4 linked regions of the Homo sapiens genome follow. The protein of the gene in region 3 interacts with the protein of the main gene of each other region in a biochemical or structural test. Each region holds a gene or a part of one and is shown on either strand. Other genes may lie near its edges. The genes, in order: FEZ1, DLC1, WWC1 and PRKCZ.

The links.
Region 1: the proteins of WWC1 (region 3) and FEZ1 form a complex in vitro, tested with the Homo sapiens proteins (one study listed by BioGRID).
Region 2: the proteins of WWC1 (region 3) and DLC1 form a complex in vitro, tested with the Homo sapiens proteins (one study listed by BioGRID).
Region 4: the proteins of WWC1 (region 3) and PRKCZ form a complex in vitro, tested with the Homo sapiens proteins (one study listed by BioGRID).

What each region holds. Positions count from the first base shown.
Region 1 is NC_000011.10:125,485,179-125,493,429, reverse strand, and holds part of FEZ1 (fasciculation and elongation protein zeta-1), read left to right. Parts: intron 1-3,607; 5' UTR 3,608-3,652; coding exon 3,653-3,963; coding exon of another isoform or gene 3,964-3,967; exon of another isoform or gene 3,968-5,231; intron 5,232-8,251. UniProt on the Homo sapiens protein: May be involved in axonal outgrowth as component of the network of molecules that regulate cellular morphology and axon guidance machinery.
Region 2 is NC_000008.11:13,504,195-13,512,445, forward strand, and holds part of DLC1 (rho GTPase-activating protein 7), read right to left. Parts: intron 1-8,251. UniProt on the Homo sapiens protein: Functions as a GTPase-activating protein for the small GTPases RHOA, RHOB, RHOC and CDC42, terminating their downstream signaling.
Region 3 is NC_000005.10:168,420,220-168,428,470, reverse strand, and holds part of WWC1 (protein KIBRA), read right to left. Parts: intron 6,464-8,251; coding exon 6,374-6,463; intron 4,939-6,373; coding exon 4,403-4,938; intron 439-4,402; coding exon 330-438; intron 1-329. UniProt on the Homo sapiens protein: Regulator of the Hippo signaling pathway, also known as the Salvador-Warts-Hippo (SWH) pathway.
Region 4 is NC_000001.11:2,178,833-2,186,568, reverse strand, and holds the end of PRKCZ (protein kinase C zeta type), read right to left. Parts: intron 6,256-7,736; coding exon of another isoform or gene 6,043-6,255; exon of another isoform or gene 3,828-6,042; intron 2,999-3,827; exon of another isoform or gene 2,694-2,998; intron 2,093-2,693; exon of another isoform or gene 1,987-2,092; coding exon 1,871-1,986; exon of another isoform or gene 1,648-1,870; coding exon 1,560-1,647; 3' UTR 1,292-1,559; downstream 1-1,291. UniProt on the Homo sapiens protein: Calcium- and diacylglycerol-independent serine/threonine-protein kinase that functions in phosphatidylinositol 3-kinase (PI3K) pathway and mitogen-activated protein (MAP) kinase cascade, and is involved in NF-kappa-B activation, mitogenic signaling, cell proliferation, cell polarity, inflammatory response and maintenance of long-term potentiation (LTP).

The sequences.
Region 1 (8,251 bases), on a different chromosome or scaffold from region 3:
TTTCCTTCTTTCTTTCTTTCTTTCTTTCTTTCTTTCTTTCTTTCTTTCTTTCTTTCTTTCTTTCTTTTCTCTCTTTCTTTCTTTCTTTCTTTCTTGAGATGGAGTTTCGCTCTTGTTGCCCAGGCTGGAGTGCAATGGCATGATCTCGGCTCACTGCAACCTCTGCCTCTTGGGCTCAAGCGATTCTCCTGCCTCAGCCTCCCAAGTAGCTGGGATTACAGGCACCTGCCACCATGCTCAGCTAATTTTTTTTTTTTGTATTTTTAGTAGAGACAGGGTTTTGCCATGTTGGCCAGGCTGGTCTTGAACTCCTGACCTCAGGTGATCCACGCACCTCAGCCTCCCAAAGTGCTGGGATTACAGGCATGAGCCACTGTGCCCAGCCCCCACATCACATTTCTATGTAAGTTAGCTATCCTGGTTTTCCTAGAATTATTTTTAACTTTTTTTTTTTTTTTTTTAAAGATAGGGTCTCACTTTGTCACCCAGGCTGGCATACAGTAGTGTGATCATAGCTCACTATAGCCTCAAACTCATGGGCTCAACCAATCCTCCTGCCTCAGCCTCTCCAGTTGCTGGGATTACAGGTGTGAGCCACCGTGCCCAGCTTTGATTTTTCTAGAATGATTGATATTTATTGGATGCTTTCTATATTCTGCACATTGTACTTAACACTTCAAAGATGATCTCATTTAGTCCAAAAAGTAATCTTCAAGGGAAGCACTGTTTTAAACTCCATTTTATAGATGATGAAATTGAGGCACAGTGAGGTTGATAACTTGCCCAAAGTCTCCCAACTAGGAGTGACAGGACCAGGACAGGAACCCAAAGCCTATGCTCTTAGCCATCACAGAGTACTGCCTTAATCAACACAAATCCCTGGGCTGTGAAAACTGTTTTACTCTCTACTGCATTCTGCCATCTTTTCTAATCTCACTTTTTTGTTGCTCAGGGATTCTTAATCTTTTTTGCACTATGACCTCCTTTGGTGGTATGGAGAAGCCTGTGGGCTCCTTCTCCAAATAATGTTTTTAAATGCATAAAATAAAATACTTAGTCTTGTAAAGGAAACCAATTTCATTGAAATATAGTTACCTTCAAAGAGCCTGCAGGGGTCTATGTACTGAAGATGAAGAACCCCTGACTGGCAATTACTTGTGTTTGCTTTAGAGCTGTGTTGTCCCTTGCGGTAGCCACAGGCCACATTTGACTGTTGAGCACTTGCAATGTGGCTAGTCCAAAGTGAGATGTACTGTAAATGGAAAATATACACTGGATTTCAAAGGGCTTAGTATAAAAAAAGAATAAAAACTGCCTCATTAGTTTTTTTGTGGATTACATTTTGAAATGGTAACACTTTGGATATATTGGATTAAATAAACATATTACTTCAATCAAAATGATTAATTAAATTATTGATTTATTAAAAATAACTCCTAAAGATGTTAACTCTGTACCAACACCTTCCTTATAACAAATGAGGAAATCAGGACCAATGATGCTTGTCACTCAGCCAGCCATTGGCAGATCTGTTGGCTCTCGAGCCTGTCTTCTTTCCAAGATATGGTACTACTTGTATATATTTTTGTATTCAAAGGTCCTATCATGTTGCCTTTGCAAACTGTAAATGCTCCAAATATGTTTTAAAGCAACGGTAATCAACTTAATCCCAGCAAAATCCCGGTACAAACTGGCAGTGTTCTTGCCTGGCATGTCCTTTGCCTTGCTTATTTAGAGTTTTAGTTTTGTAGGTAGAGATGGAGAATGGGCACTCCTAGGGCAAAATCCATGAATTTTGCTGTCTGGTTCCCCTCAGGAAGCGCCTCCAATTTGAGCACCTAACTATATCAATAACCCTATAGACCGAAGAGAAAAGCTTGGTAGCCTTTCTGTTGAGCGTGTAGAGAAGGGTATGATAGTCAGCAATGCTTGTGCTGCCTGAAACTGAAAATGGAAAACTGTATGTGGGAGATAGATCATTTTTTCAACGAGCACATATTGATTGACTGCCTAGCCACAGGGTAGGCAGTGTATATTTGGAGCCAGGGAAGATATCCAGAGGATTTCTGTGTCCTCGAGGAATTTAAGTTAAAATTGAATGGGGCCCAGATGTACACACAGATGGATAAATCACAGTTGGAAGCAGTGCATGAAGATGGCCCGATGAGGGGTAGAGGTCCCACAGTTGGTGGGAACTGAAGGGAGTTCTGTGTGTGCAGCGTTCCAGGGTGCAGTGCCCAAGATGGTTATGGAGTATGGCTTTGGAGCACATGGGTAGTTGGGTCTGTTTCTTACAGGATACAGGATAATAGATCATTTAGTCTATTCCTCTGCTCCTAGGCATATGCTCTATGTGTGGGAAAACCTTGGGTGCTTGTCTGGGCACGGTGGCTCATGCCTGTAATCCCAGAACTTTGGGAGGCTGAGGCAGGTAGATCACCTGAGGTCAGGAGTTCGAGACCAGCCTGGCCAACATGGTGAAACCCCATCTCTACTAATAATACAAAAATTAGCTGGGTGTGGTGGCACACGCAGCTACTTGGGAGGCCAAGGCATGAGGATTGGTGGAACCCAGAGGTGTAGGTTGCAGTGAGCTGAGATCACACCACTGCACTCCAGCCTGGGCCACAGAGTGAAGCTATGTCTCAAAAGCGAAACGAAACAAAAACAACTCAGGCATTTATTGGAAGGTCTCTATTGATGTTTTATTAGTTTTTTTAAAAAAATAAAAATAGAGATGGGACCTTACTATGTTGCCCAGGCTGGTCTTGAACTCCTGAGTGAGCTCAAATGATCCTCCCACCTCAACCTCCCAAAGTGCTGGGATTACAAGCATGAGCCACCACATCCAGCCAATGTTTTATTAGTTTCTACTATTTATTGATAAGGGTAGTAATATCTAGGTATACAAACCCTTATCCAAAACCCCTGGGGCCAGGCATTTGGAATTCAGATTATTTCAGATTTTGGAAAGTAGTAATAGAGTGTACATTCCGCATTTCATCCAGTGGGATCTGGGATAGCAATCTTTGTAATTAAAAAGTTAATATTTCTGCAGCAAAACACACAAAATGGGATAAATTAAAGCCATGAACAGCTTTATATTCATGTTGGTCATGTTTAGTTGCCAGATGAGTTTAGATCATGTCACATTTTGCTGCCAAACAAGTCATGGAGAATTTTCAGCTTTCAGATCACATAGTTAAGGATATGGATCTGTGGTAATAGTAATAGTAATAAAAATAATAATACTAAAACACCAACAGAAAGTATTCAATAATATTGGCACTTATTATCTTCCAGGTACTGTTTTAAGCACTCACCTGTGTTTACTCCTTTAGTCTTCTAACAGCCCTTTGAGGTGGGTTCAGTATTATATCTGTCTTGAGAAGAATAAGAAGCACAGAGCAATTAATCACTTGCCCAAGGTCACAGCTGGTAGGACAGAACAGAATGCAAACCTAGACGATCTTGTCCAGGAGCTTCGTACTTAACCAGTGCCTTGTTTTTTGGAGTAGGGAATTGGAAGCAGGTGTGTCTCTAAAGTTAACTCTATTATTTAGATTAGCCTGGTCTAAACTCACATTACGCTGTTCATTTCTTTTAGATAAACTCATCCTGAAAGTCGCTGTTGTTCTCCTGCTGAGCAAGAATGGAGGCCCCACTGGTGAGTCTGGATGAAGAGTTTGAGGACCTTCGACCCTCCTGCTCGGAGGACCCGGAGGAGAAGCCCCAGTGTTTCTATGGTTCATCTCCCCACCATCTCGAGGACCCCTCCCTCTCCGAGCTTGAGAATTTTTCTTCCGAAATAATCAGCTTCAAGTCCATGGAGGACCTCGTAAATGAATTTGATGAGAAGCTCAATGTCTGCTTTCGGAACTACAACGCCAAGACCGAGAACCTAGCTCCCGTGAAGAACCAGTTACAGATCCAAGAGGAGGAGGAGACCCTTCAGGACGAGGAGTAAGAAGTCTTAATTGCCCTCTCCTGCTTCAGTCGAGAGCCCTGTAGTCCTTGTCTCCTTGACATAGTGCTGGTTTCTGTCTATAGGTTTATGGGCTATTACTTTCATTTTCGTGTTGCCAGCGGAGCAGTGCCCTGGTACTTGCTGTCATAGCTCTATATATGTCCCTTTACAGTCCCCTGAGGAGAACTTTCTTAAATTGAAACCTTAGAGGAATGAAGGTTTTCCTAGATACAAAATGGAATTTCAGGAGCACAGTAAATTTCAGGGTCTGTCTATCTTAAGCTTTCTTTATATCAGTGGAAATCCAGCGAGATATTAGAAATAAAGGCCAGAAAAAATTAATTAACCATGATGGATGAATCTATGTTATTGGACTAATTTGCTTCAAGAAACACCAGAATTTTGAAAATCCCGAATTTTTGACAGCCCCTCAGGCCTGGAGAGTTATCTACAGATGTTAGGATATGTCCACATAAGAAAGCATCTAAACTGAACTGAGAGCACAGCGGGCTACCCTGGACAAAGTAAAGGTGGAAACTAGGTGATGTGGCCTTTGAGTATGCAGATTCCTTGTATCACTTGCTCGCTACTTTCTAGGGTCTTAATAGTAGTCAAGAAAAGGGATCTGAGAAAAGTACTCTTTCAGGAGGGACTAGAAAGAGAAGGGGGTGATATGTTACACAAATTAAAGAAGGATGTCTTAGGCATTTAGTAAAAATTCAGTGGTTCCCCGCTATCCTCGGGGGATGTGTTTTTTTGTTTTGTTTTGTTTTGTTTTTTTTTGAGATGAAGTTTCATTCTATCGCCCAGGCTGGAGTGCAATGGCACAATTTTGGCTCACTGCAACCTCCACCTCCCAGGTTCAAGCTATTCTCCTGCCTCAGCCTCCTGAGTAGCTGGGACTACAGGTGTGCGCCACCATGCCCGACTAATTTTTGTATTTTGAGTAGAGATGGGAGTTTCACCATGTTGGCCAGGCTGGTCTCGAACTCCTGACCTGGTGATTTGCCCGCCTTGGCCTCCCAAAGTGCTGGGATTACAGGCGTGAGTCACCACACCTGGCCCATGGTGGGGGATATGTTTTAAGACCCCCAGTTAATGCCTGAAACCGCTGCTAGTACCAAACCCTAATGTTTTTTCCTGTATGTACGTACATATGATAAAGTTCAGTTTATAAGTTAGGCACAGTAAGAGACTAACAACAGCTCACAGCAAAATAGAGCAATTATAACAATATATTGTAATAAAAATTATGTGAATGTGGTCTCTCTTTCTCTCTCTCTTTCAAAATATTTCATTGTACTGTACAGCAGATAACCGAGCCCTGGGAAAGCAAAACCACAGATAAGGGGGGACTACTGTCTACATGAGTTCCCTGCAGAGATACAATATGCATCCATTGTTCTTAGCTATCACACAAGAAATGTCAAACGTCAGGGAAGTCTGAAGCACCTGTGCTTTTGTTTCCCTTTTTGTGGATTTGAGTGGGAAGAATGGCCCACAAATAATGGGGTAAGAGGCACGTCCTAGAGGATTGGAACCTGACTGTATTTGGGAGAGGGTTGCTTATTTGATGACTACTGTAAGACTCTACTTTTACACATAGAGGGGCCAAATATCTGTCTGATTCACTCTTACAGCCCCACTGTCTAATACAGTGCAATGTGCAAATAATATTTTTGAATGAAATATTGAATATCAAATAAACTAGATGAGTGATAATAGCTAGTAGCCTTGTATGTACATGTAATATATTTCTAAGCCCACACCATTTCCTTCTTTTCTTTTTAATTAATGCTGGCCGGAAGGTATGATCACAGAGAACATTTCATTCTGCTGACTAGTACTATAGCTGTGGGCTATGTGTTTAAATTTTAAGTTTCAAACAGATTCTTTTTAGATTCTGAGCCTGTTATCTGCTCAACATTTATAAGTCAAAAAAGAATGGCTCTGGGGGTTTATTATGCCGAATATTTTTTCGTTCTAGTGCACCAGCCAATGAACTAGAAATACAAAGACTATGAATTCTAATTTTGGTACTCTCTCTAACTCGCTGTGTGACCTTGGGCAAGTCATTTAACCCTGGTTGACTGTGTAGGTCCTCATCTATGAAACCTCCAGAGCTCAATCTTGATGAAGTGAGGCTAAGGACTTGTAAAGAACCTAATTTCTTACCTCACCCAGGATGCCCAGGTGCTCTGAAAATGACATTTCAAGATGCGTCCCATTCCTTTTGCTTCCAACAAATCATTTCCCCCCTATCAAAACCCCTCCTCTGCCTCATTAAGGATGAAGGCCCAATGAGCAGATTCTTACTGTCTTCTAGCACATTAGAAGAGGCCACTCAATGTTAATTACCATCACATGGGATTATTGGCCTCCTCAGCCTGATTTTTCTGACTTGACTGCCTCATTGACTGCCTCAGTTAAGAGACCAAAGATTGAATAATTCCTTCGAGATAAGGTATAATTTGGGGACAGTGTAGCGGGAGGAAGCTGGGAAGAGAAAAATTAACACAACACTTTCTAGGCATTCAGTTCTAACCCCTCTTTATAATTTAAAATAAAAATCAGAATTCTGTTACACACTTTGTTTCATAGACACTATCCAGATATTTCAACTGTGAAATTATGGCTAAGTAAAGGAAAAGGGTGACTTAATATCTCACCTGACTACACTTCTCCTGAACATAGCTCTAATGTTATTGTTATAAACTTGTTCCGGTTTAGTATTTAGAGGGCTGTTTCATCCACAAATGAGTGAAAAGTGCTGTGGATGGGTTAGAGGTAAATAATAGAAGCTTAAAACAAAAGCAGGGAAATACTTGGTTAAACTGCCTCCTTAAAGACAGCACAAATCATAGAGCAAATGTAGTGATTCCCTTAGAAGCTTTCTTTAGTCTTCATTTGGAACTATTTAGCCAAGAGGGGAGTTGGCTAAGATTTGTCAACTTATCTCTGATCTGTCAGGGCATGGAAGTTCTAGGCATTAAAGGAGAGTCAGATTTGAATACACATTTTTTGGTTTTGCATTCAAGAAATATCCCAGAATCTCTTCTTTGTGTATATGTGACCACCCTCTTCCTTTGCCATAAGAGATTGGGCCTGGAGGTCACAGCCTCTTAGGGGTCACTACAAAATGGAAATTGACGGCCCTCAGCTTACCTCCTACGTCACTGGGGATCCCTATCAGCCCTCTTACGAGTACCCTGAAGACAGAGGGGCTAACCATGCAATGGCTGTTTCTTCAGATAGAATTGTTATAGGTGATGTTAAAAATAAAGTGCACACAATAAACTGCCTGTCATCAGATATACTACATGTTGAAGACAAGTAAATACCAAATAGTCAGCTAGGGAAAACTACACATAATTGTGATTTTTAGAAAATTTAATTCTCTTTTTAGAGGTTATAGAAAGCGGATATAGTATTGATTCTATTTAAACATTTGAGGACATCTAGAAAGTTGAGCAAACGCATTAATGTGCTGCTAATAATTTCTACTTTCTTTCTTTTTGAGACAGAGTCTCACTCTGTTGCCCAGGCTGGAGTGCAGTGGCATGATCTCGGCTCGCTGCAAGCTCCGCTTCCTTGTTTCAAGCAATTCTCCTGCCTCAGCCTCCCGAGTAGCTGGGATTACAGGCAAACGCTGCCACGCCGGACTAATTTTTTTTTTTTTTTTGTCTTTTAGTAGACATGGGTTTTCACCATGTTGTCCAAGCTGGTCTCGAACTCCTGAGCTCAGGCAATCCACCCGCCTCAGCCTCCCAAAGTGCTAGGATTACAGGCGTGAGCCACCACGCCCAGCCACTAATTTCTACTTTCTAAACATAAAGTGCAAAGGTGTACTCAAATTAATACACATTTGGGTGTGGATATTGGCATGACTGCACACCAGCAAAACACTAGACAAGGGAAGTAGCCAGGCTTGAGGGAAATGTCAGCAAGTTAGAATTCTAATAAGCCCTTTAAGCTGCCTGCCATATTGTCAGAAATAGGTATATAAGGGTTTACGTGTGCATCAGGACTGAGAGAACCCTGATGGCTATGTTGCCAGTTCCAGGCCCTGGAGTTCTTTGTACACGTGTCCTGGCACCCCCCAGTCTCCACCCTCCTCCACTGGGTTTGCTCATACTCTGCCAGCAGCCTTTCCCAAAGCCCCTGCTCTCTGTGGCGAAAGATACTTAAGTCAATTCTACAGGCACCTAAGCCCAAGCTATAAAATATGCACCTGAAAAAGCCTTTTCTGTTATACAGGGATGGAGAGAGCAAATTGAATCTCAG
Region 2 (8,251 bases), on a different chromosome or scaffold from region 3:
CAGCTCACTGCAACCTCTGCCTCCTGGGTTCAAGTGATTCTCCTGCCTCAGCCTCCCGAGTAGCTGGGATTACAGGCATGTGCCACAATGCCAGGATAATTTTTTATTTTTCCTAGAGACAGTTTTCTTCATGTTGGTGAGGCTGATCTCAAACTCCTGACCTCAGGTGATCCGCCTGCCTCGGCCTCCCAAACTGTTGGGATCACAGGCGTGAGCCACCGCGCCCGGCCTTCAGAGAACATTAAGAGAAGAAATTTTTCAAAGAAAACAATTTTAGCATGTGTTCCAGAACAAATGATTCAAGTCTTCCGATTGAAGGGAACTCATGAGGATGCAATGGTACCAGAAAGAACAATAGACCACGTAAGAAATGTCGTTGTGAATTTTCAGAACATAGGAGGTAAGCAAATGGTTCTAAATGTAATCGGAGAAAGAGAAAAAGAGATGATATATTAGGAGCTGGGAATCAATGGTATCAGATTTGTCAAAAGTAACAGTGCAGGGAAGACGACAGGCAAATACGACTTCAAAATTTGGATGGGAAATTATGTCTGCCTTAAAATTATATGAAAAGTCTTACTTTTTTTTTAACCTCTTCTCAAAAGCTACTGGAGAGATAGCTAACCCCAAATTAAAAAATAAACACAGTGGGAAAGACATGGCAAAAGGAAGCCAAGAATTCAGCACAAGTGAGGAAGGTATAGAATTTTCAGGATAAAAGTTGTGTAGCAAGTCCAGTGGTCAATCATTTCACATAACTCCTAAAGTTGTCTCTGGGAGATGTCTCTAAAAAAAGGGAAATAATAAATTATATATGACATATTGAGAGGAATTTTATAATAAAGTCAAGCAATTTGGATGGAAGAATTATTAATAGTTATAGAGAACACTAGGGATATCAATTATCAACCACAGGAAAAATAGTTTTACAAGAAGGAAAATATAATTATAGTATACTCCATAAGCTGTGGCTAATTTTTTTCATGTAGTCAAAATAATGCAAATAGTAAACATTAAATTAACCAAAACATATGAAGCAATGATTTTCAGTGCATAGGATTCTGTGAGGAGTGAGATTAGGGAGAGCAGGGAAAATAATTTAAGGGAGATAGTCACTTTCTGTAGCAGGAAGTTAACAGATAATGTTTAAAATAGAAAAAAAAATCATAGTACAATCATATTGTTTAGAAATACAGAGTTAAATATCAGAAGACATAGCTAAAAATAATTTAAAGTATTATGATATTGTGTGCCATTTGCTAAGAAAGTCTTATCTCTGGATTTCAGAATTCATGCTAAAAATAATTTAAATTTTAAAATGTTCTACAGCAGTAATTTTAAGGTTAAGCTGATGCATAAACACGACTGCAGTTCTTCTGCAATATGTCTGGTGGGGCCAAACCATTCTTTTTGCCCCATTCCCCCTCACCACAGCATCCCCTCGCAATTACACAAACACCAGTCTCATGTACGTAGCAAAGAAAAGGTGCCAGTTTGGATATTTATCTTATGTCACCAATGTCAGCACAATTTCTATGAGATTCTTAGGTCAGTTCTTTCAGTTTCCTTTCCTTCCCTAACTCTCCTGGGGAATTCCTGAAATTTGGAACAGGTATTCTTAGGAATTGTCTAAGCCATAGTTTTCCTAAAATGTTATCTGAATAGAAGTTTAAGATACATAAAATAACATATAAATAGCATTACATTAGTACATGCACATAAATGGGGAATTCTCACTCAAATTCCCACTTTTCCTGAATCCCTCACTCACAGTACTTGGAAAGATGGCAACTTTTGTATTCATCCCATCAAATGCAGGTATCTTATTTTGTCCTTTGAGAATACATGTGATACATATATGTGTGTGTGTATATATAAAGCAGTCCTTTGAGAATACATGTGATACATATATGTGTGTGTATACATAAAGCAGTCCTTTGAGAATACATGTGATATATATATGTGTGTATACACACACATATATACACATATGTATACAAATACATGCACACATAAATATGTATATGTAAACACACACATATATATAAATGAACACGCTATTGACTTCTGGGTTGTGAGAGTGTGTGTGTGTGTACACATATATATTGATATAAATAAATGAACACATGATTGACTCTAGGATATTCTATTAAATATCCTGAATATTTAATGGAAGGGAAAATAAAGACATAACAGTACTGCCATTTTACTTTTCTTTTCTTACTTCTTCCTTAGATAGCTAGAATTACTTCTGGTTTCCCTTAGAGTTTTTCATCCTGATTAGCCATCCCATGTTAAATTTCTAGGTCGTGTTCTCCACCTACTGCTTTATACACATACACACACATGGACACACACACACACACACACACATGTGTGTGTGTGTGTATATATATATATATATATATATATATACACATATATATACACACAGAGAGACACATGCACCCAAATATATATGTGTGCATATGTATGTATATAAATATACACACACACTTACATAAAACAGCTATCGCATAGCATGTGCTTAGTCACTGTGGGAAGGAAGAGAAGATGTAAGGGAAATAATCTCATGTTAATTAAACGCAACTTAACAGTTTCTAAAATGCTCTCTCAGCATATGAACGAAGAAGAAGACACCTCTACATTTGGCACATTTTGTTGCTACGTGGTGAGGGTCACCTTAGTAAGATGCATATGTTGGAAACCTGAATATCTGGTAATGATATGAAATCTTACTGTATCTTAGCCTACTCTTGGGGACTCACACTTGTACATCGTATGTGCCCCCAAAACACTTACTGAATTGAATTAGGCAACTAGAAAAGACGATCAACAACCTGGAAACAGACATGATCACAGGAGCACAACTTAATATAGTTCTTCAACTCATGTCAAAGTAAATCTTCATTACAAAGAGCATTTGTGGAAGCCAAAATGAAACCCATTTTCTTAATGATAATGTCAAAGAACAAATTACCTAGCAAACTAAATTGTGTACATTTGGGCGCCTTCCCACTGGCACACAGCTCAGTGATAAATGAAGAGGAATGCTCTTTACGACCAAACTGACTTGACATATGCTTAGAAGCCAGAAAGCCCAGGGAAGATATTATGTTTCTTAATTCCTTTATGTAAATACACAAACAAATAGCAAAAACCGTAAGAGCACATTTCTAAAAAGCATTTCTATGAGTCTAGTCCAGACAGCCAACTTTCAGTAAAAAACAATTAGTGTTTTTCCTTTAAAATATTCATGTTATCTAATCTAAATTAGACAAGACTAGAATTAGACTGTGGGTGGATAAACATTTAATAACATGATGCAAGAATTTACCTCCATATGATTTCATGCAGATTCCCTTTCTTTAGTAGCAATATGTGTCTTAATCCCACACAAAATCATTATTCCTCTACTTTTACATACTTTGTTTAATGCTGGAATGTACTTGTTATACCTCATTACATGTTAGTGGAAAACATGAATCCCTGTTAAAAGTTTTATTGGCAAATTGCTTAATGGAGATTAAAATATTATATATGAAGTAGCTTCCATGTCTTTAGGCTGTCTGGAAAGCATCAAAAACTTTACCAAATTAAAGAATAAGTCATCTATAATGAGCCAAGTAAGGGGAATAAGTAGTGTTTCACTTTTTCCAAAATACACATCCAACGTTCCATCAGGTTTAGTCTTTAGAAGAAAAATGAAGAAATAGGTACCCAGCTGAAAAATATTATTTTATTGTTAACCCATTTTTAGGTATATCTGAGTTTTTACTCAACTTAAAACATTTTTTTTATTCTTAGCCCTCAGTGATTCAGGCAAATTTGAAAGTTAACTCTTTCAATCCACTAGAAGTCAGCTCATGAGAAAAGAGCAGGGTGTTGCAAAACTGCAAGCTATTATTTCAGCGGTGCTCTATTTTTACGTCCAGGTTGCTGCTATTTAATGTCGCTTCCAGTAGTGTCTAATTTTCTTGCAGAGAGGAGAGCAGATACTGGCAGTGTTTGACTTACCACCCACTTTATGGCTCAAGCCAGCCAGATTTGGAGATTCTCTTAACATTTTCTTAAGCAACCCGCATGTAATTTGAGGAAACTGGGAATATTTTATGATATTCTCCTGATATCACTGAGATCTTTCTGGGGATATTGGTTTCTAGGAGATCCCAGAATTAACAGAGCCATGTGGGACAATATTGCTTTATGGATGTAGTAACTTCTTTTTCTTTTTTTTTTTTGAGACGGAGTCTCGCTCTGTCGCCCAGGCTGGAGTGCAGTGGCGCGATCTGGGCTCACTGCAAGCTCTGCCTCCCGAGTTCATGCCATTCCCCTGCTTCAGCCTCCTCAGTAACTGGGACTACAGGTGCCCATCACCAAGCCCGGCTAATTTTTTTGTATTTTTAGTAGAGACAGGGTTTCACTGTGTTAGCCAGGATGGTCTTGATCTCCTGACCTCGTGATCTGCCCACCTCGGCCTCCCAAAGTGCTGGGATTACAGGCGTGAGCCACCACGCCCGGCCAGATGTAGTAATTTCTAAGTATCTATGTTTTATTTGGATCTCCATGTTTTATTTTTTTTTAAGTATGCAATCTTCTTAATAGTACTGTTTGATCCTATGCAGAATAATTTGGGCATTTACAAATACATTGTACCTTAGATTAATTCTGCAAATAAATTCATTAATGAATAATTATCTTCTTTGCCATAATATCTCTTTTCTGTAGAACCTCTTACAATAAAGAGAAGTATTGCCTTTCCTCTGATCTTGTTTCACTTGAAATTTTTCATGTAACAGGAAATAGCCTAGGGTTAAAGTTGATATTAAACGTGTGGCTGACCTTTTTATTATTGATGGCAAAGCAGTATGATTGAAATGTGGTTTGCTGTATTATAAAAAGATATTTTTATTCAACAAGGAACACGGATTATAATGTTTTATCATCATCATGGTGAGATGCGGTTTTGCTTTAAGTGGTCACTTTATTTTTAGCTTTGCTATCATTTCTAAGAACACTCCAACAGTAGACACAGTAATCACTCCGCGTAAATAACAGATATAGCTACATCAACCCAGGTGCTCAGATAGCAAGTTGACAGTAGGGAATTACATTTTTAGTCATTCCATAAGCACAATTTTCACTGAAATCAGGAACAAGATGTCATTAGGAACTTAATTACTTCTGTTAGCTTGGTGTCCTACCTGGGGTCAATGTCTCTGCTATCAACTTTTGTCTTCCATACATCTCTATCATCTCATCTTAATTATGTCATCTACCTATAAATGTTTGAGCTTATTTTTATCACCAAGTGTTTTTCTTAATACCTAAGAAATATTAAGTGCATTAGAAACTTATAATGATAATTATAGTAAAAACATCCTTCAATTAATTAAGCACTTATTATGGGCCAAGTACTGTATTCGGTGTGTTACTTAGAAGCTATCTCCTTTAGCAGTAATACAAATGTTGTATGAAACAAATACCATTATTGCTCTAATTAATTTGATAGGGAAGAATTTTGGCAGGACTGATTAACTAGCTCAGTGTCAAATACATACTGGTGGGCAGGAATTGTCTCCCATTTTTGTGAGGATGTCTGTGAAATAACTTTTTTCCCCCTGGTGATTAGGGTTAGTTACCTAAATTCTATGTACCTCAGTTTTCTCAGTTCTGTAATGGGAATAATGAAAAAACTGTTGAGGGGAAAATGATAATGAGTTAATAACAATGAGATTATAATATATGTAAAACACTTAGTCCATGGCACATTTCAAGCACTCACTAGATGTAAAGTGACTTGATCATGATGATGGTGATGGTGATGGTGATGATGACTCCTTTAGCTTTCAACTGATCTTAGCTGCAGAATCCAGGGCTGAGTATGAGCTGAAACTATCTCTTCTATGTCCATGATATTTCAATATAGATGAGTGATTAGAACAAAATGTGAGTGAAACACAATTATTCTTTATTCTTTTTTTTTTTTTTTTTCCTGAGATGAAGTTTTGCTCTTGTCGCCCAGTCTGGAGTGTGATGGCACAATTTCGGCTCACTGCAACCTTCACCTCCCAGATTCAAGTGATCTCCTGCCTCAGCCTCCTGAGCAGCTGGGATTACAGGTGCCTGCTACCATGCCTGGCTAAAGTTTTTTGTATTTTCAGGAGAGATGGGGTTTCACCATGTTGGTCAGGCTGGTCTCGAATTCTTGACCTCAGGTGATCTGACTGCCTTGGCCTCCCATATTCTTTCTTGATTAATTGACTTATGCCTTTTTAAACAAGGACTTGTTGATTATACTGTATGCAAAACAATTTGCACACATGAAATCTCATCTAATGCCTAACATGACCTGGAAATCCCATACTTTACTAATAAAAAGCAGAAACTCAAAGTAGTTACGGGGCAAACATCAAATCACAGAGCGTCAAGTGGTTAAGAGGAAATCAGAGCCAGTTTTCTAACTTTGTCCATTATTTTTTTCGGTACACCACCCCATTTAAAATGTGGAAAATTCACTAGTGCTCTGTTCTCACTGGCCTCATGTAACTTTTAATTTCAAACCATTTCTGGATGCCTATGCTTCCTTCTGGTGCTTAATGAACTTGAAATGTCATCTAATGAGAGTGTTGTTAACCTCTGGCCCCAGGCTCTGATGACTCTTTCCAACCTCTTATTTTCCTTCCCCTTTAGAAATTATTATTCTATTATTACAGGATGTCTGGAAAATAAGAAAGAAGTCCAACTCCCACACATTACCATTCCTCAACCCTGGTTTTCCTTTCTTTTTTTTTTCCTTCGCTTTTCCTTCCATTCATTTCACAAACATTTATTGACAAATAAGTGTTGATAATTCCTGGCAAGCTAGGTATTTTGCTAATTGCTGGGAATAAAAGAAACACTAATTGAGTATCTAAACCTGCTGTTTGATCTTCCTACTTCTTTTCTATCTCATTTCCATTAACAGGGCTGATTTTCTCTTTGAATTATTTGAATTGCATTGCTAAAACACTTTGTTATTTCAAGCTAATACAGAAACAACCTTTTCACACATGCAATTGTCTTTTCCACCCATTTATCTCAATTAATGAGCAAGTTCATATGCATGCTGTTTACATTATCTTTCACCTTTTTTTTTGGCATTTGAGTCACTGTTTAATCTTTTAAAGTTCATTTATATACTCTAATCCACTGAATCAAAATTAACAATCTTTTTTAACTGGGCCTCAAGGTCCTAGTTTATTCATTATTATTCTGTTTAACTTTCTTAAAAATTAGCCCATTTATTTATCAAAACTCTGTAAACTATCAGTTGAAAGCCAAAACAGAACCATAGAAGTAAACACTGTATTTCTCTATCACACCAAAGTCAATCAAGAGTCATTCTTCTCTGTAACTCTGTTTGGTCTATGTTGTTTATGCAAGGGGCTTATCTTTCGTGTGGGGAAAGCAGGCCCAATATTCACACTACTTCCCTCAAATTTGAAAGTTTTCAGTGTTCCCTTGTCCTCTTCCAATTCTCATGTGCAATTCTTGACATGTCTCTATTTTGATAATAAAATCCCTGATCTAGATCTTGGTCATTTGGAACTTTGCCATACTGTAATAGTTTTTAAAGAGTGATTCTCATTTTATAACACTGACATCACTCATTTTTCAAGAGGAAACAAAAAACAAACAAAAGACAAATTTCAAATGATCAATTTTTGACCTATTTTAAGCCTGTAAGATCTAAAACTCTATGAATAAGATTAAACCATCCCATAAGTATTTGTAGTGAGTTATATGGTATGGGTAGGTATAGACAGAGAGAGAAAAAATTCTTTTTTTTAAATTATAATGTCCTTATGAAGAAAATGAAGTGATGTGCTATCTTTTACTAGGCCTTCTAGGAATCAGGCAGTCAGCTATAAGGGCCACCACTTTACTGCACTTATTTCTCATTCCAATAATGTAGAGTGTGGTGACATTGAAAGGAAGTGTTGAATAGTGTCTCTTTTAAGTAGTAATAACATCAGGAAACTCAATCTGGTCATGAAAATGGAAAAAAAAAGTATCGTGACACATTCTCTCTAAGGAAATGGCAGCTATTAGAAATGGAATGTGTTACATTTATGAGAAAGGGTCTTGTCTGAGAAGGTATACTGCTTCAGCACACACAGCAACAAATATTGTCATATATGAAGTATGATGCAGATGAAATAGCCCACGCTCCCATTTTATACCACGTTGTTCAGACATTTATTTATAT
Region 3 (8,251 bases):
TGGGATTACAGACTCACACCACTATGCCCAGCTTGGACTCCTCTCTTAAGGGGCCTTCCCTTTCTCTAGTGCTTGCTCCTTAGCCATATACCTTTTTCGTAGCTACCACAGAACTAGCACTCCCCCAAACCTGAAGCATCTCTAACCCCAGGAAAAGTTATGCTGTCTGTGCCTTGGGCAGCCAAGAGGAAGGTGGGGTCATGCCCTCTTGGGGCTCCTCCCACACACTGTGGGGGCCAAAACCTAAGCCTCTCCACAGGCCTAGGCTCTGGATATTCAGAGTTCATGGCTTACAGGGCCACAGAGAGAGCCAGCACCCAGACACCTACCTCTGCACGGAAGCCTCGTACACACCACTGTCTCCAGCCACTGACTCGTCCGATACGGCGGCTGAGACACAGGCCACTTTCAGGCCACACCCCTGGGCCGTATTCACAGCTAGGGAAGGAAAATGGAAAGGCAGGTTCAGGAACCAGGAAACTGCCTTTGCGACTCCCAATTTTGTTTTGTTTTTGAGGCAGGGTCTCACTCATCCAGGCTGGAGTGCAGTGGCACAATCATGGCTCACTGCAGCCTCGACCACTTCGGGTTCTGGTGATCCTCCCACCTCCGCCTCCCAAATACTGGAACTACAGGCATGTGCCACCATACCCAGCTAATTTTTGAATTATTATTTTGTTGTAGAGATGGGGTTTTGCCATATTGCCCAGGCTGGTCTTGAACTCCTGGTCTTAGGCGATCTGCCTGCTTTGGCCTTCCAAAGTGTTGGGATTACAGGCGTCAGCGACTGTAATCCCAACACTTTGGGATTCGGGGAGCCTGAACTCCCAATTTTGATACACTCTCTATGGAAGACAGACGGTTCCACCAAATTCCAACCACCTCTAAATGCTAAAGCAAAAAAAAAAAAAAAAAAAAAAAATTAAAAAAAAGTTTGCTTTAGGGTGATGGAAGGAGTCACATGTGATTTTGTGTTTTACCATCCCAGGCTCTTGAGTCGAACTGCCTGGATTCAAATCCGGCTCCACCACTCACTGCTTCATGACCTTGAGATACTGACTTAATCCTGTTAAGCCTCAGATGCCTCATTTGTAAAACTTGGATAATAATACCTACTTATAGGGCTGTTGACAGGACTCAGCGAGACATTATAAGGGAAGTCCTTAATATAGAGATTGGTGCAGGCAGGCAAAGTGCTCTGCAAAACTCATTACAACTATCCTTATTGCCACTACTGTTCCTATCACTGTAGATATCCATACTTTCAATGGCAAAAACTGCAATTACTTTTGCATCAACCTAACAGATCCATCCCTACCCACCTGGGGCAAAATAACAGCCCCTGGACCCTCAGGACAGAGAAGGGAGAGATTAAGCACCCGTTCTTCCACTGCCTATCCCTTTCCACTCCGAATTCAGCTCCTCCTCTTCCCTAACCTTAACAGGGGCCCTTGAAAGTCTCTGATCTGAGGCTCATAACTAAGCACTCAACACGTGCTGCACATTCCTTCCTTGCCCAAGTAATGATCACTCACGATGTGCCAGGCCCATTGCCATGTTCAGAACTACAAAGATGAATAAGACAATTCCTGCCCTCCTTGCAGCGGGGAAGGCCAGATCCAGATCTTACAACCTCACAGCTAACACCTCTGAGCACCTGCGGGCAGACCGGAGCAGGGCAAGGGCTCGCAGCATTGAGGGGCACAGAGTCCAGGGCATGGCAGGCCGGGGACGGCGATGGGTGACAAGGCGGGTCTGGGAGACTGCAAGTGCTGGTGATGGGGAAGCTGAGCCTGCGTCCCATGCCTGCTGAGCCCGCGGAGACCTCCTGCTTTCAGACCCACGCATCTCCACCCTCCACTAAACCACTTAAGGAGATTAATTTGTCTGCTGACTGAACAGCGGCACTAATCACATAACCTGCTTAGCGTCTAAGCTCTGCCTGGCATTGCTTGCTGCAGGGAAGGCTTCTGGAGATGGCATGAAGGAAATGCCATCCCGAGACCTGTGTGTGCCCAGCCTAATGTGCTGTCTGAGGCCCACAAGCCCCAAAGACACTGTTAGGGAGGGGAGAGGAGGGGGTCACTTCACAGGACATAGCTGGGGTCTGAGTGTCCTGACTTGGCTTAATATTGATATCAGAGGCATGCTCTTTGAGCCTTGTTAGAGGTTCCACCTGCACCCCCTCCTCTCCAGGGAACAATTTTCTGAGGCTTGCCACCTGCTATAGTAGGGCGCTTGCTTTTATTTTGAGAGCACTCAGCAAGACTCCCTTCCTGATGAGGGAAACCCAGGGATCTCTCGGCTCCTCTTCTAAGGAAACCACTGGCACTCAAAGCCTTTCGTTAACAAGGAAACCTCATTTCCCTACCATGCTCCCACTGGCCCTTGTACACACATGGATAATTCTGGGCACAGCAGCACCACTCCTGCCCATGCCTGGAGCCACAGAGCTGACATGGGTCTGGCTGCTTCTAGCTGGCCTCACCTGGAGCCAGGAGCACCAGCTTTTTGTAGACAGAACTCAGCACATGGATAACAGTGTGCGTTCTGAGCAGGTGGTCCTTGTGCCAGTCCTGGTCTTGCCATTTCACTCTGTGGGACTAACCTCAGACAAGTCTTTTAACCTCACTGTGCCTCACTTTTTTCATCTTTAAGATGGGGATAAAAGGGGCTGGACTTGGTGGTTCACGCCTGTAATCCCAGCACTTTGGGAGGCCAAGGTGGGTGGATCAACTGAGGTCAGGAGTTCGAGACCAGCCTGGCCAACATGGTGAAAGCCCGCCTCTACTAAAAATACAAAAAAAAAAAATTAGCCAGGCATGGTGATGTGCACCTGTAATTCCAGCTACTCGGGAGGCTGACGCAGGAGAATCGCTTGAACCCAGGAGGTGGAGGTTGCAGTGAGCCAGATGGTGCCACTGCACTCCAGCCTGGGTGACAGAGTGAGACTCCATCTCAAAAAAAAAAAAAAAAGGAGATTAAAAATAGCACCCACTTCCCAGAGGTGTTGTAAGGCTTAAATGAGTAAATATGCAGAGAAGTACCTAAATCCTAAACACCTGTACGCTATATATCATAGCTATGATTATTGTGAGCTATTTTTACTGTGGCCAGGAAAGCCAAGAAGGCCCAGGTGAGTTTACTGAGCATCCTACTCAGTCCTGACCTTCACACCCAGAGCCAGATGGGGTTGGTGGGGCCCCAAGCACCAGGAGTTGGCATGAATGTGCATGCTGAACTGCCTCCCAGCCTAAGGCATGACAATAAGGGGGTTGGGTTCCGGGGCCAGAAACACTCAGGTTCCTATCCCTGCTTCCTCACTTGTTGGCTGGGTGACCTAAGGCAAGTGACATCACCTCTCTGAATCTCCAATTCCTCACCAGTGAAATGGACAGAATAGAAATAACTGATTTCACCATGTATCAAGCACATTACCCAACTCATAATATATCCCCAATAAAAGTTAACTATTATGATTTATTATGTGGTTGCTGCTAAAGATAAAAAGGTTTTCTCCTAATAAATCTTAGCTGTCAATGTCAGCATCATCTTCTATTTTGAAGATTCCAACTTAAATTCCGGCCAACACCAAAATGTTCTTTCTGACCCCATGCAGAATGGGAGTCAGATCATATCATTCCTGGCTTCAAACGGTCACATGGGTCCCCAGTGCAATTAGGATAAAATCCAAACTCCTTAGCACAGCCCACCAGGCCTTTCAGGATCTGGACTCTTGCCTAGTTCTCCAGCCTCACTGGTAACCCCCTACCTCTGACTCATGGCTTCCTGGCTCCCCTTCTAGTCCCTTGCTCTGACCTCAGAGATTTTGCTCTTGCTTTTCCCAAGGCTGGCTCCATCTCACCATTCAAGACACCCTCAAATGTCATCTTCTTTCACAACCCAACCTGCCCTGGCAGTCCCACCTCTAACCAGAAAGGCTGGATCACATTCCCTGTTTTATTTTCTTTGTAGTGCTTGTTTGGTTGCAGGTTTATTCCCTGTGCCTCCATTTGAACATAAGCTTCATGAGAACAGGGACCCTGTCTGTCTTCAACACAGAATCCTTAGTGACCAACCCAGTGCCTGGCACCCAGCATATCTATAATCATGAATAGATGAATCCATGTATATCCATTAGCACAGGATGACCTGACATTTAGTTTTATGAGGTGCTAAATGTCTGTTGGAGGACAGAATCTACTACTGAAAACCCTTCACACAGGACCTCAAAAATACTGAGTTAATAAACATCCACTGAATAAATATACTTGCCATACAAAGACCCAGCACACAGAAGCAGTCAGTAAATATCGACTAGAATGATCACTGGGGGGTTCTGAGCACAGAGTATCTCTTTCCCTCCTCCTGGTTCCCACCCTCTGGGTATGGTGCTCTCTACCTTGGCCCAGCTGCTTGCCCTCCGTTCCTGGTTCCTCCAGCCGGTATCTTTCCTGGGCGCTGTTACCAAGGCTCAGTTCACAAAGAGTGGCACTCAGCTCCGGGTCTTCAAACTCCAAGGAGTTGAGGAAGGCATCACCAGCCAGGAGGGGGTCAGCCATGAGAGGGGAACAGGGTGGGGAGGGGGAGGAGAGAGAGGAACGTGGGGATAGGGAGGTCATGGACTTTGGGGTGCCAGACAGGGAACGCAGAGCCTGCAGGCGGCCACCTCCCTCTGCCTTCTGGGTCTTGGCCACCTCATCCTCGTGGATGGTGGTGATGCAGCCTGAGGGCCGGAAGCCGGTGGCCCCCTCCAGGAGCAGGAACTCCACCTTGCTCTGCAGCTCTGAGTCCAGCTGCTCAAAGGGGTCATAGTAGAGGTCAGTGAAGCTGGCTGAAGTGGAGGAGTCCAGGCTGGATGCAACCAGGGAGCCCCGGCTGGACGTGAGGGATCCGGGGCTGCTGCCTGAGGACAGGGACTGCATGCTGCTTGAGAGACTGGGACACAGGGAGGGGAAGGACAGTGAGATGCACACAGTGAAGTGGGCCCCCTGAGACCTTCTGCTGAGCTCTGGAAAGCACCATGATCTCACTAGACTTGCTTGGCAATCTCTAGGGTAGACCCTTCACCCCCACTTCATGGAAAACTGATACCCCAAGAAGGCCACATAATCAAGACATGGCAGAGCTGGGCTTTGGACTCAAGTTATAGCTGCCTTAAAAGTCCACTTTTTCCTCTAAATCTGTGTTTCCCAAAGCTCCAATTGGCTACGTTGCATTTGTATGATATGTTTTCATAGTTGAATCCATTATGTAATAAAGATTTCTTAATATCTTTCTTGAAATCAACTCACTGTGTTTTTTTTTTTTTTTTTTTTTTTGGGGGGGGATGGAGTCTTGCTCTGTCGCCAGGCTGGAGTGCAGTGGGGCGATCTCGGCTCACTGCAACCTCCGCCTCCTGGGTTTAAGCAATTCTCCTGCCTCAGCCTCCCAAGTGGCTGGGACTACAGGCACCTGCCACCACGCCCGGTTAATTTTTTGTATTTTAGTAGAGAGGGGGTTTCACCGTGTTGCCCAGGCTAGTCTCGAACTCCTGAGCTCAGGCAATCCGCCTGCGTCGGCCTCCCAAAGTGGTAGGATTACAGGCGTAAGCCACCACGCCTGCCCCAACTCACTGTTTTAATACTTTAAAACATCTATATTAAAAGGAAACTTTACATCCTAAGTGTAATTTGAAAAGCAGTATCACTTACTACAAAGAGAAGACCACCATTAGAAAAAAATCTAATGGAACAAAATGTTATTGAATTCCACTGATGCACTGTTGTTCATGGAGGCCCAGGTCTGAGGCTACATTCTCTGTGTTGTGCAGGTAGGTGGCAGTGTGAGTTTCCTAAGGCTTTTTTTTTCTTTTTGGAGACAAGGTCTGGCTCTATCACCCAGGCTGGAGTGCAGTAGCACAATCTCGGCTCACGGTAAGCCTCCTCCCGGGCTCAAGTCATCCTCCCACCTCAGCCTCCTGAGTAGCTGGGACCACAGGCATGCACCACCACACCCAGCTAATTTTGTATTTTTAGTTTCGCCATGTTGCTCAGGCTGGCTTCAAACTCCTGAGCTGAAGCGATCCACCCACCTTGGCCTCCCAAAGTGCTGGGATTACAGGTGTGAGCCATGACACCCAGCCGAGTCTCTTAAGACTACCTATTACCTGCCTGGGGCCTTCTTTGTGCTATCAGTCTGGAGAGGTCAAGACCCCTATTCCTAGCTACACCAGGCCACGCCCGAGTCTGCTGACAATCCATTTGCTATGCTTCTAAACATCCACTCTCAAGCCACGGAGGACAAGTGAAGGGTAGAGCCTGGGCTGGGACACTGGGGACACCCATGTCTGGCCATGCCCAGGGGAGCAGTGGCCTCACCGCCCACCACTCACCTTTTCAGCTGGGAGTGCAGAGTTGCCACCTGCCGGGTGGCTTCCTCCAGTTCTCTCACAAGCTGGTTCCTCTTACTGTTTAACTTTAACCTGGAAGGAGAGAAAGCATGCGAGGGATGCACCAAAAGGAAGCACAGGCATGCACTCTTACCCATGTACACCCAGACCCACAGGCACAAGAACTTTCCGTAAAGCATTTGACCACGGCATCTGGGGAGCTAGAGCTTCCACATATATTATAATCCTATGATAACTGCAATATCACTCACCCACTATATATATATATCAGGCACTCTGCTGGGAACCTTAGGACACTGCCTTAATTCAGTCACACAATAATGCTGCATAGTAAGAATGATTTTTACCACTTTACATAAGAGGAAATCGAGGCCCTTAGAGTTGTATAATTTACCTAAAGCTGTGGAATTAGTGGCAGAATTAGGATTTCACCCAACCATACCCTCCTTCTCTTCCTTCCTCCATCTTTCAGCTCATATTTACTGAATGCCCGTTTTGTACTGGACCCTGCCTGTGGCACTGGGGATAAAGTAGTGAGTGAGCACAGTAGGACTTGTTTCTGTTCTTATAGGGCTTACATTCTACTGGGGAGAACCGATATTAAAGAAATACTCAAATATCTAATTAACACAGTGTGTGACAAGGTCCATGAAGAAAAAGTACAAATGGTAGAAAAGAACACAAAAGGAGAGGCCCAATTTGAACTGGCAGGTGAGCCTCTTCCAGTCAAGTGACTCTGTGGCTGAGACTGGTGGTGTGTACCCTGCCTCCACCATTTTCCCAGCCTTCCCTGTGGCCGGGTGGGCAGGGCGTATGACCAAGTTCTGGCCAATGGGATGTGAGCACTAGTAGTTAAGAAAAGTGTGTGTGTCTTCTTTACTGTCTGTTGCATGGACTCTTGTGGACTCAAAGGGGAGGCGTCACAGATGGAAAGAGCCTGAGTTCCTGAATGACCACATGGAAGGCTGCCTGTTAACTGGACATACCCAATTAGACATTATATGAACAAAAAATAAACCCGTTGTATGAAGCCACGGAGACTTTGGGGGCTGTTTCTTGCAGCAGTTAGATTCCTGACTAGTAGAGAAATTTAAGGATGGATAATGGACAGCAGTTGGCTAGGAAAAGTGCAGGAGGGAAGAACATTCCAAGCAGGGGCTTTAGCAAAGACCTTATCATCTTGAGGTCACCATGACTGTGGGGAGGACAATGGGCAGGAGGCTGAAGACTGAAGGCGGGGAGGGTGGCTGTGAGGTGTAACCGAGATGGTGGAGGCTTGAGCAATGCAGAGACAGAGACAGTGCCTGGGCTGCAGGAGCAGCTGAGGCTGAGGGAGTAAATGTGGAAGACTGTGCGGTTACTGCTACGGGCAGCCAAGTGGCCCTGCAGATGGCATCTGCTAAGAGGAAAAGGCTGAGGCAGAGGATCCCGGGGGAAGAGAAGAGCTCTATTATGGATATGTGGGTATGAATACTGAACAGGTGGGCTGCTCTAAAGGTCGGGGCGGGGGGGTCCCTATCAGATGGATCACCACCTGAATGAGATTACCATCTGTTCTGGCTTGATTTTTGTCCCCCGAAATCCTACATCGAAGTCCTAAGCAGCAGTACCTCCAAATGTGATTATATTTGGAGATAGGGCTTTTAAGAAGTAATTAAGGTAAAATGAGGTCAGTAGGGCAGACTCTAATCCAGTATGACTGGTGTCCTTCTAAGAGGAGATTAGGGCACAGGCACGGGGGAAGACCATGTGAAACGGAGGGAGGAGGAGGCCACCTACAAGCCAAGGGAAGAGACCTCAGAAGAAAGCAACCCCACTGACATCTGATCTTGGACTTTTAGCTTCCAGACTGTGAGAAAA
Region 4 (7,736 bases), on a different chromosome or scaffold from region 3:
AGCTAAGGTTGGGAGTGTGGCTGAAACCCGTCTCCACATTCCACCTAGAAGCCTGAGCTGGCCGGGGGGGGGCGGGTGTCCAGGGTCTCGGGCCGGGGGGAATGGGCCGGCAGTATGCCCAGCGCTGGCATTCTTGTCCTGGCACCTGGGGCTTGGGTGTGAATCCACCATGTCGTGCTGAGCGCCAGGCACGGAGTGGCACCCTGAGAAACCTGAGTGTGTAGGGTGGGCCACGCTCACCTGCTGGGGATGACCTTGAGGCAAGGCAAGGCGCGGCACAGACCTCCTAACTTGGGGTTTTACGTCTCTCTTCCCCAAGCCACCAGCCGCACAATGGGGTGGAGCGGCCCCTGAGTCATGGAGGCCTGGGGTCTCTGCGCCTGGCCAAGAGGGCTGCGTGGCAATTTCCACACCTGTGCACCAGGCCTCACTCAGAGGCATGAGGTGGCGCGACCCCCTCTCCCAGGGAGCTCAGAAGACGGCTCTGCCACACCTGACACCTGGCAGCTGGCAGCCCTGCCTCTAGGAAGCCTCAGCTCTGGACAGCTGTGCCTTCACCTGAGGGGTGGGTGGACGGAGAGCGCGGGTGTGTTCCCGGGAGCAGGAGGTCCGCGCCGCTGGGAAGAGTGCCTGTGTTTCTGGGTGTTTGTAGGGTCATCACGTTCAACTTTAAGGCTGGGGTCCGTCACATGCACATCTTTTAGTTTTCCCTAACTCTCAGTGCTGTGTGACAGATAAGAATATCTTCCAAAAATCAAATGCGTCGCACGAGGCATCGTGCAGGCACTGCTTAGTGTGGTCAGAAATGATTTGTGCAGATTTAGTGTTCAGTTTTTTCTCTTTTTTGGTCTACTGTGCTTTGGTGGGCCACGTTTTAGAATCTCTATGATCCAATTTCCCCCATCGGTCCAGTGAGCTGGCTGGCCCAGCTGCCATCTGCTTAAGGTGTCACTTCACCCTAGACCACAGCGGCTGGGACACACTCTGCAGGAAGAACAACAGGAACTTACCGGGGTTTTTAGGAAACAATTCTTGATTGCGGTGTGTCCCCACAGGTACTTCAACTCCCGCCCCCACCTGTGTCCCGCTGGCTCCTAAGCTGCCCCCCTACGTGTGGGTTGCGTCTGAGATGTGGGGCAGGCGCCACTCACGGAAAAAAGGCATCAGAGGAGCTTCCACATCATCGGAACATTTTATTCCTCAGGACGCTACACGCTCACTTTCCTGGCGGAGCAGGTCAGTGCATCGAGTTCTGTTTCCGTGGAAAATGTGCACCTTGGAAACCGCATGACAGCCCCCTCGGCAGGGTCCCCGCGGATCCGCCGCGACGCAGGCACAGCAGCAAGTTCCTCCAGCACGAAGCTGGCCTGCCCGGGCCCAGGTGTGAGGGACTGTTCTGCTCCCAGCAGCGCCCGCTGACGCTTCCCTCTGCGGTCTCGGCGCAAGCGTCTGTCCCTGGCCGCCCTCGGAGCCGTGCCCAGCCTGGCATGCATATGCGGTGGTTAAGGATACAGTTAAAGGGTCAATCACGCGTGTCCACGACAGAGACGCACGCGGCCTCACACCGACTCCTCGGTGGACAGCAATAATGGGTTGATATACTCAAAGCCTTCGAACTCTGACTGGTCGATCCTCTTTATGGCATCCCTGTGGGCAAAGGTGGCAGGGGGGAGGGGGGTGACCGTGTGTTCATTCCCTTGGGGGAAGCGGAGTCACGTTCGCATAAGAATCCTCCCCCAACGCCCACTGGAGAGATGACACCAGGCGGGTGGGACTCAAGGGCAGGCTGGGTCACCAGCTGCCCAAGGTGCCGGCCTGCCATGGGGCTGCCCGAGGGGTGCTCCAGGGACCCGCACCCAGTGGGACTCACTCATCGTCTGGGGTCAGCTGCACGGGCTCGCTGGTGAACTGTGTGTCAAAGTTGTCCAGACCGTAGTCGTCTGTGATCTGTGGCTGGAATGGAGGGAGCGCCTGCTTCTTCTCCAGCTTGGAAAAACAATAGGAGAAGGGTCAGCTCCGCGCGGGCATCATCCCTACCAGATTGAGTGTTTTGCACGCACTTCAATCACAAAATGAAACAGTGAGAAAGTCAGCATTTCAATCTGCCTAGTATTTGACTGCCAAGTGTTTTTTCTTACAACACAAAATCTAGAAAATATCCAAAGTCAGAAAAATTGTTGTCGAGCTGAGAAATGCCAGTGTCGGCCATGCTGGCCACATGTGGGACGGAGCAGGATCCCCAGCCACCCATGCGAGGCCACCCCCTTCCTTGGGGGGGTCCTTGTTCAGAGGGGCACCGACAACTAACTGGCTGAACAAGCCGTCTCATGACGTCTTGGAACCCTGACCATAAAGGTGTAGGACCTGGCCACAGCACCCTGCCTGCGCTGGCACTGCACAGACCCGTCTGTCAGGAGCCTCCTGCCGGCCCATTTCTGCCTATCCAGGCATCGACTTCAGAATCTCAGGTGCTGCTTGGCAGGAAAATGCCCAGCAGGCGGGCCTGGGACTCGGTGATGCGCCTGTGCCGGGGAGGGCAGAACGCTGGTGCCTGGCACAGGTGCCACAACACATACGGGTGAGGACACTGAAAACCCCTCAGTTCCCCCGACTCATGGCCACTTGTCCCAGTGACACAGCCATGCTCTCCCACTCACCCACAATAGGGTCTGAATGTGCCCCCCAGATTCACAGTGAGAAACTCATTCCCCAGAGCAACAGTGTAGAGAGGTGGAACCTGATGGGAGCCCCGCCCTCACAGACAAACTCCTGTAGCTGTCAAGACAGCTTGGGCATGGATTCCTCTCTGCCTTCTGCCATGTGGACACGTGGCCTTCCTCCCCTCTCTCCTCCGGGGAATGCAGTGTTTGGGCGCCATCTTGGAAGCAGAGATCAGGCCTCACCAGACACCAAGCCTGCTGGCACCATGACCCTGGACTCCCAACCTCCACAGCTGGGAAAGAACTCTGCTCCCTAGAAATTACCCAGGCTCGCTCAGGTATTCTGTTACAGCAGCACCAAGAGACATTCACTCGCTTACTCCCTCACTCTCTAACCCACTCCCATTCACCCTCTCACTCCCTCTCTAACCCACTCCCATTCACCCTCTCACTCCCTCGCTAACCCACTCCCATTCACTCATTCACTCACTCACTCTCTAGCCCACTTTTTTTTTGAGATGGAGTCTTGCTCTGTTGCCCAGGCTGGAGTGCAGTGGCGCGATCTCGGCTCACTGCAACCTCTGACTCCGATTCAAGCTATTCTCCTGCCTCAGTCTCCTGAGTAGCCGGGACTACAGGCATGCACCACCATGCCCAGCTAATTTTGTTTTTTGTTTTTGTTTTGAGACTCGCTCTGTCTCCCAGGCTGAAGTGCAGTGGCACGATCTCGGCTCACTGCAAGCTCCACCTCCCAGGTTCACACCATTCTCCCGCCTCAGCCTTCTGAGTAGCTGGGAGTACAGGCGCCCGCCACCACGCCTGGCTAATTTTGTTTTTGTATTTTTAGTAGAGGCAGGGTTTCACCATGTTGACCAGGCTGCTCCCGAACTGCTGACCTCAGATCATCTGCCCTCCTCGGCCTCCCAAAGTGCTGGGATTACAGGCGTGAGCCACCGCGCCCGGCCCTCTTTAGCCCACTCATTCACTCACTCCCTCGCTCTCTAACCCACTCCTGCTCACTCACTCATTCACTGGCTCACTCACTCTCTAACCCACTCTCTCTCATTCCCTTGCTCGTTCTCTAGCCCACCCTCGCACACTCATTCACTGGCCCGCCCCTTAGGTGTGTGCTCCTGTACCAACACTGAAATCCAGCTGTCACAACAGGCACCCACTGACTCCAGCCTCATGGAACCACCATTCACCAGGCTTGAGGGGAGGATGTCACGGCGCGCTGCTCCCTTCGGTGCCAGCCAGGATGGGGCCGGGTGGGTGCAGCTGGTGAAAAGAAATGCAGCCCCCCAGCCCCTGCAGACCAAGCCGAACAGCCCAGCTCGCGGGTGGATCACAGGGCACCCAGCAGCCGCCTTCCCTCCGGAAGAGCCAAGAAGGCTTCCAAGACCAGAAATGCCCCCAGTGTGGCTGTGCCTGTCCCCGGTGCCCCGCCAGCTGGGGGGCAGCATACCCAAACAGATGCACCCTGCCCATGATGGCACCCCAGGGACCCCCATCCTCAGGACCCTCCAGTCGTTCAAGCTGGAATTGGCAGGTTTCTGCCTGTATAGGCATCGGCTTCAGAGTCTCAGGTGCTGCTTGGCAGGAAAATGCAGGGCAGGAGGGGCTGGGCCTCAGCTCGAGGCTCCCAGGTGCAGCCCCCCACTCCACTGCAGGGCCCAGGGGGGCCAAGAACAGCCACAACAACAACAAAAGCCAAACTGGGAACGGAATCGTGGAAAAAACCCTCATAGGCTTTTGGGAACTTACAAAGAAATGCCCACATCCATTCTACTAACATGGCATCTACTAACGTGGCATCTACTAGGATGCCACAAAACAGACAAATCCTTCCACGTAAGGCTGGACACGTGTCAGGGCGGTGTCTCAAAGCTGGGCCACAGGCAGCATCCACGGCCAGGCCACTGGGTGGAGGAGACGGTGCTGGGGAGGAGCCGGAGGGAGGGGCCGGGGCTGTTCCCTTAGGCAGAACGGCTCACCTGTGGTGTGCGCACAGCAGGATTGTGGGGACACAAGATGCCCCCTTCATTCATCAGTTACTTGTATTCTTTGTATGAAACACCTGCCGATAAAATGTGAAAAAGGGGCATTTCCTAAAGTACTTTCCCTACCTTAGTCCTGTGCTGCTTTACAAGGGTTTAATAAGCAGCAGGGGTGGGAACAGAGCAGGACCCAGCTGGAGCTGGCCCAGGGTCCTCCAGCCCCTGGCCCAGCCCGTTCTCTGCTCCGAGGGCTCAAGATTGCCTCAGTTTCCCTGACAGCATCCCCAGGGGCCAGCGTTACCTCCTCCTCTTGCTCAAAAGCCTTCAGTGCCCATCTCTGCAGCTGGCACGTGGGCTCCAGGTCGGGACCCATGGTGCCTGACACCTTTTCCCACCGCCGCCCCCTGCGCCCAACCCATGGACGTCCTGGCCTCTCAGAGCAGTGCGTTTGAATGCACGCTGGCCCCAGGTCGGACGCTGTGGCAGTAACAGGTGTTGCCCCTGTGGCTGCAACCACAGCAGTGACCTGAGATACAACAGGGGGCCCGTTCCGTGTCAATGGGGCTGGGGGCCCAAGGGCTCTAGTTCTGAAGGGACATCTGAGAAATAGCCTGGGGGAGGTGAGGGCTGGAGCCTGGGGAGGGCACAGCTGTGCAAAGGCCCCATAGTGGGTGTGTGCCTTGTGCGCTGGGGGCCACAGAGGGGCCCCATGAGACCCGAGTGAAGGGGCTGAGGGGGAGGAGGCTTTTGGACACAGGACGACCCTGCTGTCCGTAGGGCCAGGCAGGATGCTGGTGGCTTGGTGGAGGTGGCGGGGGTGGGGTGGGGAGAAGCAGCAGGGCTGGGGGGCTGGGCTAGGCCCCGCATGGCAGAGCATGGTCAGGCACAGAATGGACGAGCCCCACGTGCTGGGCAGGGCCTGGAGGCGTCCAAGGGGACAGCACGCCAGGGTCCACTTTGGCCATACTAGCCGGCCACATGGAAACATCCTGGAGCCAGTTCTTGGCAATGATGAGAGGAGGTCCCTGAGACCACCCTGCACTGTTGGGGTGATGACGGTGAGCCCTGCCACCGGATGCAGGGCTGGGCCCAGGAGGTAGTGCCCTGGGGGCAGCATGGGACTCCCAGGCTCCTGGTGCCCAAACCACAGGAAACGCCCAGAGAGCCCTGGGGTGGCAGCACAGCAGCGGTCATCTGAGCATCCCAGTCATCTGTGCGTTTGAGTCATCTGTGGATCTGAGTCGTCCGTGCATCCATGTCATCTGGGTGTCCGTGCATCTGAGTCGTCTGGGGATCTGAGTCATCCGTGCGTCCACGTCGTCCGTGCGTCCAGGTCATCTGTGCGTCCACGTCGTCCATGCATCCACGTCGTCCGTGCGTCCACGTCATCTGTGCGTCCACGTCATCTGTGCGTCCGCGTCGTCTGTGCGTCCGCGTCGTCTGGGTGTCCGTGCATCTGAGTCATCTGTGGATGAGTCATCCGTGTGTCTACGTCGTCCGTGCATCCACATCGTCTGTGCGTCCATGTCGTCTGTGCGTCCACATCGTCTGGGTGTCCACGTCGTCCGGGCGTCTGTGCATCTGAGTTGTCTGTGCATCTGCAGTCAGTCCCCATGCATTTTCATAAACAGGTTGGCCTTAAAGCCCCACCGAGGATCCACCCACTCAAGGCTCCAGCTAGAGGCCCCACGCCTGCCCTGTGCCACGCAGCATGGGGTGGACAGAGGGGTTCGCGGGTGGCCAGGCCAGGGCACTGCTGCCTTCTACACACTCCAGGCTTGAGAATTTTACGGCCACACAGGTTGGCCCTGGGTAGTGGAGCTGGCACCAGCCCAGCTGTGGGGCTTGTCCCTCTCCATGAGGTCACAGCTGTGATCCCCACTTCTGACGGCCTCCACTGCTCCACGTCTCCCATAACCGCCTCCCTCCTGCTCCCACCCGCTGCCCAGACCCAGCCATCTCTCTGTGGGCCTCTTGTCACCTGCCCTCCTCTGCGTCTTTCCGTTTTCCCCTCCCTGCCGCCGGCTCCTTGCGCAGCACACAACGTGGCTGGGTTCCTCCCACCGAGCTCCCAGGAACGTGCCTGTCGCACGTGGGAAAGTCCTGAGGCTCCCACCACACGAAGCATTAGAGTCCTTGCTCCTCCCTGGGGCCTCCCACCAGCAGCCCTGGGCCCGGGGTGGGAGGAGCAAACCACTCCTGGCCCTGAGGCAGAATCTCCCCAGCAACATGGGCAGCAAATGACTCTCAAGAGAATCGGCTGTCACCACGCAAACGTTTCCATCCAGGGGGAGATGAGTTAGCGCAGCACCGCCCGGCCATGTGGGACACGTGGGGTTGGGCAGCAGGTGGTGGCTCAGCTGTTAACTCACCACCACCTTTCACATCAGTGGGGAGCTGGGACCATGCTGGGAAATCCATCGCTTCAAATCTCAGACTCCTGATAGTCACTAGCACAGATCACGTGATCCACAAATACTCAGGCTTTGCAGTGTGCCAAGTACCGGGGATCCTGCGGGGATGGGGACCCTCTTAGAGTGGCAGCCCCAGCCACCAGGCCAGGACGTGCTGTCTGGACCCAGTTCCTTCAGAATGAGCCTGTCCATCACTCAAAGCTCACCCGGGACAGGCCCAGCAACTTCCCCACGGCCTTTGCTCCCACAGCCAAACCGGAGGACTCAGGATTAGGAGCCTGAGGATGTGCCTGGACCGGCGGAGGGTGGGGTCTAGACACGGCCCATGGGAGCCCCCGACAAGATGAGCGCCACCTCCCAGTGCAGGGGCAAGGCAGGTGGATCTGCCTGGCTGACGGGGCCCTCTGCACACACACTGCCTCTCTTCTCCAGGGCAGTGTGCAGAGGCCAGGCTCCAGGAGGAAAGCAGTGTTGGGGACCCGGTGCCGGGCCCCAGAGTCACACCCCAGTGGCGGCGACTGCCTGAGTGGTGCTGGTTCAGCTGGGGATAGGCAAGGAGGGGGCGGCTTTGGGGTGACTGTGACCCTGTCCCAGCTCTACCCTCGGACACTCGGGGGGCGGGCACTGTGTCCTTTCACCATCCATTCCTGCTGCTCCCACTGCCT